Homo sapiens: one gene and its partners. The gene in region 1 interacts genetically with each later gene. Each region holds a gene or a part of one and is shown on either strand. Other genes may lie near its edges. The genes, in order: PSMC6, GATB and NDUFB2.

Region 1 (3,653 bases):
CTCCCTTTCCTACAGCACCTACCTCAATGGTGCACCCTCATATTAGCTTTCCCTCTTTCCATCTCACTTGCCCTGCTTCTCCTATTTCCTGGAATCGATTCCTAAAAGAACAGCATGAACCCAAATCCTTGCAAAGTCTATGCTCCGCTTTCAGATAAACTCAAAACAGTTTCAGCAAATTTTAAAAATCAAAATCAATAGTAAAACTGTACTTTAAACCCTTACCTGCTTCAGTACAAACATTTCTCAGATCTGCTCCATTAAAGCCATCCGAAAGCTTCACAATTGCTTCATAATCTGTTTAGAAAAAATACTGGAAATTAGTTTTAAAAATTAGACCTTTACTTGATTTATGCCCACATCGAAAATTTAAACTGAAGAGCTTACTTTGAGTTTGATCAGCTAGACATCAGCTCTGTTAACTTTCCACAATATTAATATCCAAAAACTAAGACTTCTGTTAAATAAACCAGCACCAAGAAGAATTAGACACACCCCTGAAACTTTAAAAACAGGAAATATCACCAAAATCTCAAAATATCTTAATCTATTTTTATACAGTGAAATAGCTATGCACATGTGAACTCCAGATACCTGTTAAGCTGTGACTCTTATCAAAACTGTAATCAAATCTTGGATTTGAATAAACCTATAACACTCAAAACCAATTATAACAATGGAATTTACTTTGTTTACTTTAATCATACAAGCCAAATATAAAGTATAGCAAAACTGAAATGTAATCATACATAATTGTATCACATGGAATTTTTAAATGCTACAGCATGCATTAGCTAGCTTCTCTGGTTTCTGTGCAAGATTCAAGTGGTGAAGTATCAGATCTATGGTAGCAGTAATAAAGTGAGTTCTCCATCCACCCACATAACAGACATGAATCAAAGAGCTATAGGATTGGGGTAGCAACAATGGATCTGATACAGAATAGGAAGAGAAGTAAGACAGCACAGGCTACTACAGTTTGAATAACTTTGATGATGCACCGTTTGGTCAGGCAATATAGGGCATGTCGTTCTCTATTTGAAATCACACATATATTCATGAATTGTCTTTAATCAGGTTTAAGTTCATTGTAAGCTTCCTGAGAGCAAGAATTCCCAAGGCTAGCACAGTATCTGGCATCTAGCAAGAGCTCAGTATTTGTGGAAGAAACCTATACATTGACATCCTTTGTTCAGTTCGGTCTTTCCAGCTCAAAACTCTCTAACAGGGGCAATGAAGATAGTGAAATTCAACAATCAGCTATTTGTCATTATTCTGGACCATTAACTTCTAAAGAGTTTTTAAGGCTGCCTGGAAATTATACTAGATTTCCCTAGTCTGGAGGTCAGCAAACTTTTTATGTAAAGGGCCAGAGAGTAAATACTGTATGCTTTGCAAGCCATATGGTTTCTGTTGTAACTATTCAACTCAGCTATTCCAGTAGGAAAGCAGCCATAGACAACAGATAAATGAGCATGCTTGGGTTACAACAAAACTTTGTGTGTTTCCAAAAACACAGGGCAGGCAGAATTTGGTTCACAAGCCATGTTTTACTGGCCTGCACCCTAGTCCAATCCCTCACTTCCATAGATAATGACTTTATACCTTCTCCTTTGTCCTCAAATCTCTAAGAACACTTCCCTATCTTCATTCTGAACGTGCATTCTACTTCACTGAGAAAACAGAAGCATTCAGAAAAAAACACTTCCACAAGTTCCTGCACTATCTAAGAACCTGTCATCATAAGCATCTATGTACTCTGCCTTTCCTCCAGTCTCATAAAAGTACACATATATATAGGGCCAATCCCTCTTCAAGGAAAGAACATTGCCAATTTCTCTTTCTCCTAGGTCATTCCCAGTAGCATTATTAAAAAAAAAAAAAAAAGGGCAGGGGGGTCATAAACTCTTCCATCTTATAGAAAACTCTGCCAACTCCTCATCGGCATTCCCCTTCTACTTCTTCTGCCCCCTCTGTAGAACTCTTAAAAGAAATGTCTAAACTCAATGCCTCTCCTCCCAATCTCTCTGAAACCCATCTGAAATAGGCTTTCACCTCCACCACTCCCAAGAAGCTACTTTTGACAAGATTACCAATGACCTCCATATAGTTAAATCCAAAGGTCTACTCTGAGAACTCTTTATCTGACCTATTGTCAGCATTTAACAGGAATCAATTTAAAAAACAAACAAACAAACAACCAGGCCGGGTGCAGTGGCACACGCCTGTTATCCCAGAACTTTGGGTGGCCGAGGTGGGCAGATTGCTTGAGCCCAGTAGTTCAAGATCAGCCTGGGCAACATGGTGAAACCCCATCCCTACAAAAAAACAAGCCAGGGTTGGTGGTGTGTGCCTGTAGTCCCAGCTAATCAGGAGGCTGAGGTGTGAGGATCATTTGAACTTGGGAGGCAGAAGTTGCAGTGAGCTGGGATCACACCATTGCACTCCAGCCTGGGCAAGAGTGAGACCCTGTCTCTAAAAAATAAATTACCTTCTTGGTAAGGCCTTCCCTGTGCTAATCCTCCCTGTCATTTAAAAACATATCCTCATGCCTGGTCCTGGCACTTCCCTAATTTCCTATCCCCCTTTTCTTTTTTTTTCCCCTGAAACAGCGTCTTGCCAAACTGGAGTGCAGTCACATGATCATAGCTCCCTGCAACCTCAAACTCCTGGCCTCAAGCGGTCCTTCTGCCTCGGCCTCCAAAACCATTAGGATTACAGGAGTGAGCCACCATGCCCGCCCCCCACTTTCTTGCTTTATTTTTCTCCATAGCACTTATCATCATCTATTATACTTTGTTTTACTAACTTTATCTGTTTTTTCCTAACAAGAATATAAGTTCTCTAATGGCAGAAATTTGTCTGTTTTGTTCCTTGCTATATTGTCAGCCCTTACAAAACACTTACAATGGTTCCTAGCTTATAGTAGATGCTCAATAACTATTTGCTGAATTTAAAACCACCACATTTGCTGAATTTAAAACCAGATTTAGGAAACTATCAGTAATTTCTAAAAGTATTTTTCTTCATTTACCAAATGTAAATACATATAAAATAGATGACTTCCTTACCTATTTCACCATGCTTTGTAATGGGACCTGCATGGATTTTCAGTATGTCTAATCTTGCTTGTTCATTTGGCAAATCAATATCTGAAAATAAAAAATTATTTTATAGTCCAGTTTTATCTTTTTTAAAATACAGTGGAAGGTGAAGTGAAGTATGGAAAAAGAAATGGGCACAAAGGGAAATGGACAGTAGGTAAAGAATCTTAACTCACGTATTTTTCTATCTAATCTTCCTGGACGCAGCAAAGCAGGATCCAGTGTATCTGGTCTGTTTGTAGCCATGATCATTTTAACTCTATGCAGAGTATCAAATCCATCCATTTGATTCAGTAACTAAGAATATTAAGAATCAGATTTTACAAAAATTCTAACCATTAAAAAAAATAGCACACACCTTTTATATGTCTAATGCCATGAAATGTATTGTCTACAGATAGATATGTTCTATCTTCAGAATGGTCATTTGATAGAATTCTTTTTCTCTCTCTTATATAAAGGGATATACTTTCTAGCCTCAAAGTTCTAAGCTAGATTATGTACCTTTTAATAGCTATGTATCTTTCTATAGCTACCAGGTAGTTTTAA
Region 2 (3,653 bases), on another chromosome or scaffold:
AGATAGGCCATGTGGAGTAGCCTACTGCTCCAAGGCTACTGAGTGTCCCAAATCCTGCAGGCAACTGTAACACAATGGCATTGGTGTATCTAAGCATGTCTGAACAAGAAAGGGACGGTAAAAATGCCATATGACAATCTTATGGGACTCCTGTAGCATACGTAATCCACTGTTGACAGAAACATCCATATGTATGCAGGACTATGTCTTCATAAAGACACAGGCTGGAAAAAACAGGACCAAATGAGAGCAATTTGCTTATTAGAAGGAAAGATGACTTTCCCCCCATTTCAACATTTCTACTATTTTTAGCAGCATTTACATAAATAAAAAATGAAAGGAAAAAAATTTACCCTTGAGAAATAGAAGAAATGAATAGATTTTGCCTAAACAAAATGTGACAGCTGGAGAAGAGGGAGGGAGGGATGAAGAGGTGGAGCACAGGGCATGCAGTGGAACTTCTCAGTGTGACACGATGGTGGATGCATGTCATTGTGCATATGTCAAAACCCACGCAATGTACCACACAAACAAGGAACCCTAGTGTAAACCATGGACTCTAGCCAATAAGGAAGTGTGATTGGTTTCATCATTGTAACAAATGAGCATCTTGCATTACTGTGGCACATTAACAGGAGACTCTGGGGGGAGAGTGGGGAGCGGGAGTATGTGAGAACTCTGGACGTTCCATTCAATTTTATTGTAAAGCTAAAACTGCTCTAAAAAATGAAGGGAATTAATTTTTTTAAGTGTCAAAGCTGCACCATTGCATGTAATCTTATGAAACAAGATGTCCCTCCCTCTGTTCTCGTCCAGCACTAATGGTTACTCTCTGCCCATTTTTGTCAAAGGGCTTATGTAGAAAAAGCAGGGTATTCAGAAGAAGTGGTGGTTTGGAGGGAATGGATTCGAAGCACACGCTACCCATCGGCTCACTGCCAGATCTCTTCTGTGAGTTAGTCTGGCTTCTGAGGGCAAGAGGAAACCCAGGGGAAGCTTCCTGCAGCTCACTATCATTTGAGGCATCATGCTGAAGCCACGGGCGGATGGAAAGCCGGACTCCACACTCAGGGGAAGGCGCACCAACAGGGGAGGGAGCAACACTCAGGAATAAAGTGGGCCCCTGGGAGAACAGACTCACCCGGGAAGTTCACGGTTAATTAAAATAATTTTGACTCTAGCAGACAGACAATGGGAGTTCTTGGGGTGAGGTTCATGCTAAGCGTTTATGAGTTTCTTCTTTCCCACATAAACATGCAAATTTTGATCCTCATTGATAATAGCTACATTTGCATCTTTCTGCCCTTCACAAAGGAAAGGTGGCCGATCTCACAACTTTGTTGCTTAAAACTTCAACCTGCTAAACTCAATGAGAAAAAAATAAAAGTTTCAATTATCTTATGCCTGTTCTTAGCATTTGCTTTATTTGTGGGTCTCATATTAAGTAGTTCAACTTAATTTATCATGAAATAGCATCATATGAGGTTCAAGGGAACTACCATCAACATACGCTATCAACATCTCTTTTCTCATTTCTTCTCAAGGAGCTTCATTCAGCGTATTACTGAATCAGTTACTGAACATTAGAATAAGAACAGCCTAGGCCCCAACCTCTACAGCCATCCTCCTAGCTCAACTATGACAACTTTGACACAGCAGTGGATGAACAAGTTCTTCCAAAAGCTGAATCAGTCAAACAAGGCACCAGATCTGAGGCTACCAAATCAAGAAACTAGTACTTCTCTCGGTATGCATATCAAAGAGGAAGTCTAGATGTCCCATCATGTTACAACAATGACAAAAAGTGGTTTCTAAAAATTGTTCAGGATCATTATGTTGAACTTTAAATGAACTTGAAATACGCCCCAGCCCCCGATATATAGCGGTATTTTGCCATAAGGAGTAACCACCTGTAGTCCTGTTTTCCTTCTTTGTCTCTCATTGACATGGTGCACCTGCAATAGTTAAATAAGAAAACATTAAACATTGAAAGCAGCACTGGCCAGCCTATATGTGGGGAAGGGCTCCCCTACCAATAAGGGGCACAGGCAAAATCAAACTCTGTGGACTTCCATGGGGAAACCTTAAATGAATACATTCAAAAAACAATCATAAAGAAAGCGAAATGTACAGAATGATCTTTTTTTTTTTTTTTTAAAGGAAATGACTTCAATGTAGCCATCTTTCAGCCAGCTCAAACTCGGCTTTTGAGCTTTTTTCAGTATTCTGCTTTAAGTATACAATGCTCAAAATTCTGAGTGAGAAAATTAAGGCCCAAGTTATCTAAACAAAAATAAGGCATCTCTACAACCAGGTCTTCACTCTGTTCCGCCTCTAGCTTCAGCTGGGAAAGATCTGATAGATTAAGGAAGTAAAAATTCTTGCCACAAGGCAGGTAAGCTGGAAGCAGAGAAGGAAAGGGCCTAAAACGAAGCCCTTGGGCACAGTCTGGGTCACTTCAAGCCTCCTGGCAGCCCTAGGGTATATTATATCCCTATAGGGTACAGTACTTTTCTTTTTTTTTTTTCTTTGAGACGGAGTCTTGCTCTGTCGCCCAGGCTGGAGTGCAGTGGCACTATCTCGGCTCACTGCAAGCTCCGCCTCCTGGGTTTACGCCATTCTCCTGCCTCAGCCTCCCGAGTAGCTGGCACTACAGGCGCCCGCCACCACACCTGGCTAATTTTTTGTATTTTTAGTAGAGACGGGGTTTCACCATGTTAGCCAGGATGGTCTCGATCTCCTGACCTCGTGATCCGCCCGCCTCGGCCTCCCAAAGTGCTGGGATTACAGGCGTGAGCCACGGCGCCTGGCCTTCTTTTTTGTTTTTGAGAGGAGTCTCGCTCTGTCGCCCAGGCTGGAGTGCGGTGGCAACATCTCAGCTCACTGCAAGCGCCGCCTCCCGGGTTCATGCCATTCTCCTGCCTCAGCCTCCCAAATAGCTGGGACTACAGGCACCCATCACCATGCCCGGCTAATTTTTTGTATTTTTTTAGTAGAGACAGGATTTCACCATGTTAGCCAGGATGGTCTCGATCTCCCGACCTCGTGATCTGCCCATTGCCTCCCAAAGTGCTGGGATTACAGGCATGAAGGGTACAGTACTTTTCTAATTGTACTAATGAGGAAACCTAAAAGTGGAGACGCTACGTGCCTCCTTCAAGGTCACATGGCTGGTCAGTGGCTGAGCCCAGCCCTCTCGCACCACCCCCGGCTGTGGTCAGGACGCTCAGCAATGCGAACTCACCCCAGCTTGTGATGAAATGAGCGTGTTTCGTTCAGAATTTCACCTCCATTCTCAAGTTCATTGATTTGCCTCTGAATTTCATAGTCTAGGAAAAACACACTAATTTAGCATCATATTTTGATTATACCTTTCATCCAGTCAAGCAATAATTAGAAACAACCTTTCTCAATCTCTAAGTTAAAAAAAAAAAAAATCAAGAAGATTGTTTATAATAATCCTTCCCTTACACACTATATTTCCTTCTCACTGCCATCGTAGAATATTGGTGTTGGAAAGGGCCTTAGGAAGGCAGGCTCACTCCGTGTTGAGACAATTCAGGTTCAGAGAGATTAAGCAACCCCATGCAGATGACATGACTTGGCAGAAGTGGGGCTGGGCCCAATATCTCGGTCTGAGATTGCTGCCTACC
Region 3 (3,653 bases), on another chromosome or scaffold:
CAGCGAGCCGAGATTGTGCCACTGCACTCCTGCCTGGTGACAGAGTGAAACTGTGTCTCAAAAAAAAAAAAAAAAAAAATGAGCTTTTAGTCTCCCTAAGATGGCAACCTAACAGAAACCATAAGAAACGGACCACCTAAATATACATCCTCGTGTAAAAAAAGGTGAGAAGATAACATGTTTCATTAAATAACAGGATTCTTGTATATACATATGGAAAAAGTGGTGGCAAAGGGCGATGTCCAGACAGAAAAATGGTCTACAACAGAAAAATAAACAAGCTATTAATACATCCTCCCTCCCCCACCCAAAAAACGACAAGTGCTCTTCTCCTGCACTTACCAGCACCTCTTCTGAGTCATGCCAAAAGCGCCAGAGAATCCAGAACCACATGAGTCCGCTGAAGAACTCGCTCTGGAACACCTGGGATCTGGTCAGCTGGGGGAACTGTCTATACCGGGGCTCAATGTGCACACCACCACCGGCACTGCAAGACAAAACAACATGGCAGACAGCGTGCTACATTCTCAAAGCGTTAAGTCATCCAAAACTCCTCTGAGTTACATCCTAGAACCAACGCTAATGTTTCTCATCTCCACTGAAATATAGACAGAAGTTCACAATCCCTTGAAATACTCACTTTTTACTAAGCTTGCTTCATGTGTAGCAGCAAAAACTGACCAAAACTGACAAGAGGCTAATTTTGGTTTTCAATTAGTGAAGATTCATTATTTTGCACTAGAAATTTGAATGTGTTGATTCTGGGGTGCTAGCCCCAAAGGTTTTAGTTAAGGGACTGTGAACTTGTTAGCAGGTCACTAACTTACTCAGAAAAATAAATTAATTTTGCTTTGTTTAGCTATCTATTTGAGGCAAATTATGTCCTCTGCCTATTACAATCTTTATTAAAAGACAACCATATGGGAGAGAGGACTCGCAAATCCTATTAAATATGCTAATGGCTCTGAACAAAGAACTTTAAACAGTAAGTTTGAATACGTGTTTCTTTTTTCTTCTTTTCATTCAGACACTTGACAAGTTGTGGCACAGAGTCCATAAGAGTTATAGTCAATTTATTCAGTTGGAGTATAAATATTATACGTTGCATCTAATTTAAATTATTTGCACCTACTGGGGCTATTCCTAAAACCTATTCATCAGCCATATATATGCTAATAAACAGAAGTGGATAAAAAATTTTTAAGAGAATTCCTATATAAAATATGTTTACCAATTTCATCTAGATAAGAATCAGCTTGTAAACCATATTCTCTTTTATGTAGCACAGAAATTCGTACCTGTAGGAAAAGTGCATTAAAATATCTTGTCTTCATAATGCACAGATTCGTGAACAGTAACAGGGCAGTGGTTCTTGATACATGTTAGCTAGGACTGTTTGTTTTCTTTGTTTGTTTGTTTGCGAGAGTCTCACTCTGTCACCCAGGCTGGAGTGCAATGGAACAATCTTGGCTCACTGCAACCTCCGCCTCCTGGGTTCAAGCGATCCTCCTGCCTCAGCCTCCCAAGTAGCTGGGACTACAGGTGTACGCCACCATGCCCAGCTAATTTTTGTTTTTTTTTTAGTAGAGACGGGGTTTCCCCGTGTTGGCCAGACTGGTCTCGAACTCCTGACCTTAGGTGATCCACCCACCTTGGCCTCCCAAAGTGCTGGGATTACAGGCGTGAGCCACGTGCCCGGCTGTTTTGTTTGTTTTTTTAAAGATAGGCTCTGTCGCCCAGGCTAGAGTGCAGTGGCGTGACCTTAGCTCAAGCGATCCTTCTGCTGACTGAGCACCTCCTGGGCTCAAGCAATCCTCCTGCCTCAGCCTCCCTCCCAAGTAGCTGGGATTACATACAAGTGTACACCCCCAGACCTGGCTAATTTTTATATTTTTTTTGTAGAGACAGGGTTTCCCTATGTTGCCAGGCTGGCAGACTGTTTTTATCCTCCCCCACTCTAAAAGATGACTGGTAGTTATTGAGTGTTTACCATGTGCCAGATACCACACTAAGCATTTTATAAGTTTTAATTCATTTAATTTTCATAATGTTATGATAAGGCCTGTAATTATTAATGATTTACCAGTGAGATGCTGTGTGATGGCAAAGCCTAAGCTGTTGCCTACAGACACACACCATTAACAATTTTCTCCTTTTATTAATCAAAGACATAACTTTTAACTAGAATTCCAACCAGCATGATAAAACCAATGTTACCATATTGAAATGATAAATTCCATTTTTTTTTCTAAATAGTCATCCAAAATTTAACACTTTTATTTGGAATGCTCTATTTAAGGTATTAATAACTAATTATGAATAAGGTGATTTTTAGTTTTTGCAGATGTGTGTATATATGTACTTTTTTAAGTATCATGTTTAAAAGGTCCTACCAAATATCGCCACTTTACAACTTGAATGACGTAGCATACTGTTTCCGTAATGTCCTCATATACCAATTATATTATTCATTCAGGATCTAGCTGTGCATATAGATATTACATTATGTAAATAAACCATGCAGGATCATTCAATATAGTATAACAAGAGCTTTTTTTTTTTTTTGAGACGGAGTCGCACTCTGTCACCCAGGCTGGAGTGCAGTGACACAATCTTGGCTCACTGCAACCTCTGCCTCCCAGTTCGAGCAATTCTCCTGCCTCAGCCTCCCGAGTAGCTGGGATTACAGGCATGTGCCACCATGCCCGGCTAATTTTTGTATTTTTAGTAGATACAGGGATTCGTTATGTTGGCCAGGCTGGTCTCGAACTCCTGACCTCAGGTGATCCGCCTGCCCTGACCTCCCAAAGTGCTGGGATTATAGGCGTGAGCCACACTGTGCCCGGCCAAGAGCCTTCTTCTTTGATAGCTTTTTGATACAATCTAGGTATAAGTGCCCAGCAGTAAAACTGATTAAAACAAGATTTGAAGGCCGGACACGGTGGCTTATGCCTGTAATCCCAGCATTTTGGGAGGCCGAGGCAGGCGGATCACCTGAGGTCGGGAGTTCGAGACCACCCTGACCAACGTGGAAAAACCTCGTCTCTACTAAAAATACAAAATTAGCTGGGCATGGTGGTACATGCATGTAATCCCAGCTACTCAGGAGGCTGAAGCAGGAGAATCACTTGAACCTGGGAGACAGAGGATGTGGTGAGCTGAGATCGTGCCATTGCACTCCAGCCTGGGCAACAAGAGCGAAATTCTGTATCAAAAAAACAAAAAAGATCTGAGTAATGCCGATGCCAGCATTATAGTTCAAACCCATCTTAGCAGCTCCCCACGCTTCGTTATTGCTAGAGTGACATGTTGTTTTAATCATAACCTGAAGTAGGGACTGCAAAATGGAAACCTTTTGGAACAAAGATTTGAAAGTCTGCAATTATATCACAGGAACAATGACAAGGATTGCCATGATTAAGGAATGCAAAGACTCAACACCTAATTCACAATGTTATGTTCCAAACCAGGTTGTGAACTGCATTGTGGCAAACTAGATACCCTGAACAACCCTCCAAATTAACAACTCTGCTGCTAGATGAGATTTTTAAGATTTTTACAAACATCACTGACCAGGCACAAAAGGAAGGAATCCACCAAGAGCAAAATTCAAGTAAAAACAAGGCCTGGAAGCTAAGCAATCAATCACTGAA

The links.
Region 2: changes in PSMC6 (region 1) and GATB together harm fitness more than expected from each alone (negative genetic interaction), as found in Homo sapiens cells (one large-scale study listed by BioGRID).
Region 3: changes in PSMC6 (region 1) and NDUFB2 together harm fitness more than expected from each alone (negative genetic interaction), as found in Homo sapiens cells (one large-scale study listed by BioGRID).

What each region holds. Positions count from the first base shown.
Region 1 is NC_000014.9:52,720,609-52,724,261, reverse strand, and holds part of PSMC6 (26S proteasome regulatory subunit 10B), read right to left. Parts: intron 3,402-3,653; coding exon 3,281-3,401; intron 3,153-3,280; coding exon 3,072-3,152; intron 458-3,071; coding exon of another isoform or gene 435-457; exon of another isoform or gene 388-434; intron 298-387; coding exon 226-297; exon of another isoform or gene 222-225; intron 1-221. UniProt on the Homo sapiens protein: Component of the 26S proteasome, a multiprotein complex involved in the ATP-dependent degradation of ubiquitinated proteins.
Region 2 is NC_000004.12:151,701,941-151,705,593, forward strand, and holds part of GATB (glutamyl-tRNA(Gln) amidotransferase subunit B, mitochondrial isoform 1 precursor), read right to left. Parts: intron 3,330-3,653; coding exon 3,245-3,329; intron 1,956-3,244; coding exon 1,911-1,955; intron 1-1,910. UniProt on the Homo sapiens protein: Allows the formation of correctly charged Gln-tRNA(Gln) through the transamidation of misacylated Glu-tRNA(Gln) in the mitochondria. The reaction takes place in the presence of glutamine and ATP through an activated gamma-phospho-Glu-tRNA(Gln).
Region 3 is NC_000007.14:140,699,700-140,703,352, reverse strand, and holds part of NDUFB2 (NADH dehydrogenase [ubiquinone] 1 beta subcomplex subunit 2, mitochondrial precursor), read right to left. Parts: intron 488-3,653; coding exon 343-487; intron 1-342. UniProt on the Homo sapiens protein: Accessory subunit of the mitochondrial membrane respiratory chain NADH dehydrogenase (Complex I), that is believed not to be involved in catalysis. Complex I functions in the transfer of electrons from NADH to the respiratory chain.